Linked DNA regions of Homo sapiens: region 2 is linked to region 1. A link means that fine-mapping ties the variant in region 1 to the expression of a gene that starts in the linked region. Tissue or cell type: whole blood. Region 1 holds a variant in brackets; the other region holds the start of a gene. All regions are shown on one strand. Distances are between the middles of the regions.

Region 1 (2,758 bases):
ATTAAAAATGTTCTTTAAAAACTCAGTCTTTTGTTTGTTTTAAAGTAATGCTTAGTTGCAACCTAAAAGCAAACCATAGATTAATCTCTAGACAGAACCCCCTGCCCCACCATCCAAGTCAGACATTCAGAGTTCCCAATTTGCAAATTGTGACCTAGGATGGTTATTCACCTTTACAAGCCATCCTTCTGTTTAAACATAGGATTGACTTCAAATTTATTTTGAAAAGCCAGCTTCTCTGGCAGGTAAAATTTGATTTATACACTAATTCTTTCAAGAATATGAATATCATGCACAACAGAGGGCTTATATTCTGCCTTCTTGAACAGTGTTTTACACAACTCATGGGCTTATGAGCCAGGGAAGGAAGGACCTCTCATCCCCAACCCTCTCAAGTAGGAAGGAAACAAAATTTGCATAGATGGCTTTCCTGGGCCACTTCTCATAGACCCTAGCCTCATATTTTATTAATACTTTCTCTGTGGCAGGTGGATAAGGAGTCAGGTCTTCTCCAAATTAGAACTTCCCAAAGATACACAGTCCAGAGAAAGGAGCGAGGCTGTTGGTGTTTTCCAATTCAAGTCCCGTATGGTTTCCCTAGGGCCATTTTACCCTTGATGCCCTTTCATGCTCGCTCCTTTGTCTTGCCATAGTCTAAACACCCAAGGCCTCTCAGTCATCATTAAGAATATTCCCACTGGTCAGGGAGTGCCCTTTGAGCGTGCCCTTAAGAGCAGCTGTCAGATTTGAGCAGCATCTGCTTTCTGACAAGCTTGAAAACAGGATGAAGGAAGCCATTGAGTATTTCCCAGTGGAAATGGTACCACAAGCTGCCTTTGGGACTGTGTTCAATATGCGAGGAGTTTAGTGGCCTGGCAGCTTAGGTGGGGGTGGGGGATGTAAGTGTGGGTCATTCAGGATGGAGCAGGGATCTTCCCCATCCTGAATGGTCTCAGCCATGTCATCCATGCAGGGTCCTGATGCTGGAATCCTTCCCTCTCCCTCAGCCTTCGGCTCCAGCCTTTTCTGGGCAGGGAAACAGAATGAGGCAAAATGCCTGGTGTGTTTTAAATAGATTCTTCTTGTGGCAGCCAATGAGTCCAACAGCTTGGAAGGTGAGTGACCCTTCCCGAGAGACTTATGTTGTGCCATTTCTCTTGTCCCTAGCCCCTGGAATACTGACCACCTCGACCCCTCCTGCTGTCCTCCCCTTCGACCTAAACTCCAGTGATGTTAGCCATCCTCCTGCTGCTCCCTAGATGGACTGTCTTCAGGCTTTTCTGGTTTTAGTATTTATTACACTTCCCACTTGGCTTTTTCTGTCCC[C/T]AAAGCTGATTTTCCTCGTGCTATTTGTCCACTCCACCCAGTGCACATCCCCATCTGCTGCTGCTTGTCTGACTGTCATGGCTTCCCGATGATCTTCTTGCCTCCACCTTCCCGTGGCCTGCTTGGGGACAGCCCAGCCCCACCTGGGCCTGTGTGCAGCTGGGGAGGCAGGAGAGGCTGCTCATTGCAGTGGCAAACACTGGGGCCTGCAATGTGAGGTCAGCAGTCAGTGCTCCAGCACAGCCAGGACACCCCAGATTGAGCATGGGCAGCGTGCAGAGCCATTTTCAAAAGAGTATCTTTTAGCAAAGAGAGTTAGGACTTCAGAAGACCAATGTGGCCTCTTCCCACCCTATCCACGGAGACCACTTACAAGACCTAAGCATCATGATCTCTGGATTCCCAGTAAGGGGTCATACAAAGGAAGGACATGAATATTTTTTACTTGCTAAGGGGAGATTGGCTGTGTTGATTCTGGAAAGATGTAGGGTATGGGGTATGTGAATGGACGGTAGAGGCTCCTACCTCGAACAATCTCGGTTGTGGGGCAAGTGAGAGCTCCAGACTAGGAAGCAGACCTCAGTGATGATGGCTATTCTTGGCAGTGTGGCAGTGCCATAAGTCGGTGAAACAGGTAATGGGGGGGATCAGAAATCTGAGGAGGGGCATAGAGAACATAGGACACACAAGTGATGGGCCAGCACCCATTAAAGGTTAGAATCAAAAGAGGAAGGTCAGGTGGAGGCTGGATGTCATGAGGGAAAGTTGATGAGGAGCAGGCACTGGGGAGACCAGGGCAGTGGGACCCTGCCAGAGACCCTGCAGCTCAGCTCTGCCACATGGAGGCAAGCAGTTTGGGGATAAGGCCAGGAACAAAGGGATCTGTGAGGACCCTGTCTCCTACTCATCTCTTGCCCTTTTATTATTTTTTATGAGCCTGTCCTCATGTTATATTAGTAGTAGAAAACAAACAAAGGCAGTCTGCATTTGAAAGGGGATGGCACAGCCTGGAGAATTTAAGGCTGGATGTACTTCCCCTTTTGCTGAATTCTTAGGCCTCTTTGCCCATCTGCTGCTGGAGCTATGGGGCCAGTCCCTTACTGGAGCACTCTGAATGGAATCCCTACACAGCTCGACAGCTCAGATGAGTGCCGGCGGCAGGGGTAGCCAGCAGCGGGTGTGCACCCACAGAACCCCTCCAGGCCCATGGGGCAGCCGGGGGAGCAAGGCTGTTGGCCAGCCTGGCTAGAGAGGGACCCTTAGGGAGGGTCTGGTCTGAAGGCAGCTTCCAGCGTGTGACTCCAGCTCAGTCACTGGGCTCCTCTTCCCCTAGGCACTGAGCTGCAGAGAGGCCTGAGGTAGAAGAAAGAGGAAGGAAAACTTTTTTCTTGCTGGAAAAGAATTTTAGGTAAAGAGGTAAAAAAAATTGAAA
Region 2 (2,628 bases), 59 kb before region 1:
TTCAAGATGGAGCAGATAAAAATTCAGGGAGTTAATCCTCTATAATAGCTGGAAATTTCCCCCATGGGTACTCATTCAATGGAATTTAAAACATTTGCCCCTGTATTGAAGGCAATATAGTATAAAGGATGGGGCCACATGCTCTGCAATCAGAAATATGAGGTTTGATTCCTAACTCCGGTGCTTACTTGCTGAATTACCTTGAGGAAGTTATTTAACCTTTTTCTATTTTATGTAAAACGGCACTAATAATAGTACTGCCTCACAGGGTTGTTATGGGGATTAAAGGAGAAAAAATAAGTAAAATGCTTTGCAAAGTTCCTAGCAACAGGTGAGCACAAAGTCAACAAATGGTAGCTATTATTATACCTTATATTGGTTATTTATGCACATCTCATTTCTCCTTCTGTTTTACACATTCCATGAGAAAGGAAAAGCATGCATGTAGCACAGATTAACTGCCTCACATATAATTGCTAATAAAGACTGATTGGATGAACGATTTAATATATAAACAAAAAGTATTGTGGTTATCGCTATAAAAGATGGCATAGGTTGGGCATTCACGCCTGTAATCCCAGCACTTTGGGAGGCCGAGTTGTGAGGTTCGCTTGAGCCCAGGAGTTCGAGACCAGCCTAGGCAATGTAGGGAGACAGTATCTACAAAAAAAAAAAAAAAAAAAAAAAAGGAGGGTACATAAAATTATTATAGTGGCTATAGGATAATGTGCACTGCTAATGAAGACTACATTATTTAAATACAGTGTCTTTCCTTCTATTTACTGTTATCGTTTAGCAGAAAAACAGTACGCAGGATACTAAAGAAGGAAAATTCGATGTCCCATATTACATTTGTGAGAGTTCTGGAGGTTTCTCCCTTCAAAGCCAAAACCAAAACACAAACATACCATCCCAGTAACAAATGCGTCACTTTTCTGAAGAAGACGTTAAGCCCTTCCAATTTTAACAGATCCTTTGTTCAACAGAGGAGAGAGACTGGGTAGGCATCACCTGCCCCAGTAGCTTCCGTACAAAATGGCGTTGCCCGTTCCCACACGCCAGCTGGGATTACGTCCTCCAGGCCTGTCGCAGGAACGGAAGTGGTTACGGCCCTAGTGAATCCGGGTGGGTGCGCGCAGGCGGCCGCACAGGTTCCAGGTCTTTAACGTGAGCCCGCTGCAGGTGTGCGGCCCAGTCCGAGACAGCAGGTAAGTGAGGCTCAGAAGCCGGCGAAGCCTTGCACCAGGATTGTGCGCGGGGCAGGGGGTGCTTCCAGTGCAGACTAAGAGGGGTCGTGGAGCGGGGGGATATTACCGTGTACGGGGGTGACATTGCGGGGCCCCCGCTGTCCCGGAGCGAGTTGGCCCTGCCCCTCTCCCCGCCCCTCGGCGTGACCCCCTCGCCCCCGTCGCACACGGCGGGGCGGTTCAGCACCCAGGTGCGCAAGGAGGGCCTCACCCCTGCCCGCGGCCTCCCACGCCCTCCTTGGGCCTCTCCTTTCGACCCCCTTACCCTCTCCCTGGGAGACTCTACCAGACCTTCGAGGCTGCGTGTCCCAGTCAGCTAAAAAGGAGGCCCCGCCCGCGGCACCTGGTAGCTCCTCGGGCGCTGCGGGTTCGACGCGGCAACAGCTGCTGTTTTCTCTCCTGGATTCGTGTGAGCCGCCACCCTCGCTACCATCCCTGTCCTCCCAGACCACACCCTGCTCTGGGCCTTGCCGGGAGCCACCTCTTTGGCTTTTCACATCCCTGGGATGGATCAAAACTAAGAACCTTAATCATTATTTATTACAAAATTGACATCTGCTCCTTAAAATACAAACAAACCAATCCCCCGATAAGCTTTTGATATGATTCCAACATTCAAACTCCTTTATATACCCTCTCCTCAAAAACACAAAATTGAAATTATACTTTATTTTCTTAGTTCTGTTCCAAGGATAGAAGGAATTGAAAGGTTTTGTTAATCATAGGAATTAGGAAGTGCGGGTTGGGGCGCAGCGGGGAAGATGGATTAAATTTGGTCAAGTTGAGCTTGTTTTAAAAATGTATTTTTAAAATATTCTAGTTATAGTCCGTGCATAAAGCCTTGTAACAAAATTATGTAAAAATTTTAAACACAGATCTTTCTTAGCTTGATGTTCTTGGTGGTGAGGGTGGGGAGTGTGGAAGACAGATCCTCTTTGATTTTGTTTTTTTCCATCTCCACCTTCTTTACCAGTCCCTTTCCCACAAAATAAGAACTGTTGTCAGTTTGTGTGTATTTTTCTTTGCATTTATTTGACAAGTATGTGTACGTATAAGATATATGTTTGTAAGATTTCGCTTTAAACTTTTACAAATATGCATGTTTTATGCATTACACAACTTGACGTTTTATGCTTAAAAACGGGTCTTGGAATTTTTTCTTTGTCAGTACCTAGAGATCTACCTATTCTTTCTACTTGCTCTGTAAATTCCATGGTTATGTAAGATTCCATAGATTGTTTCCAGTTTTTCATTGTTAGACACAGTATGGCGGAGAACATCCTTCCCACACACCTCTGTGAGAGCCCATGTGAGAGCATTTCTCAAGGATGGGTACCTGCAGGTGGAATTGCTGGGTGGGAGAGTATGGGGATTTAGGAAT

The links. PIP is the estimated chance that this variant, and not a neighbour inherited with it, causes the effect.
Region 2: EXD2 starts here. The variant in region 1 is fine-mapped to the expression of EXD2 in whole blood (TOPMed, PIP above 0.99).

Annotation. Positions count from the first base shown.
Region 1 is chr14:69,249,099-69,251,856 of GRCh38, forward strand. The region is part of intron 2 of GALNT16-AS1 (GALNT16 and EXD2 antisense RNA 1); the gene reads right to left. Among named protein-coding and RNA genes, the nearest start is that of GALNT16, 9.7 kb to the right of the region's middle. The variant C/T (reference allele first, on the strand shown) is at 1,327.
Region 2 is chr14:69,190,384-69,193,011 of GRCh38, forward strand. EXD2 (exonuclease 3'-5' domain containing 2) reads left to right here and starts at 1,115. Exons shown (of 10, transcript NM_001193360.2): 1 at 1,115-1,208. The region is part of intron 3 of GALNT16-AS1 (GALNT16 and EXD2 antisense RNA 1); the gene reads right to left. RefSeq lists a silencer at 1,336-1,525.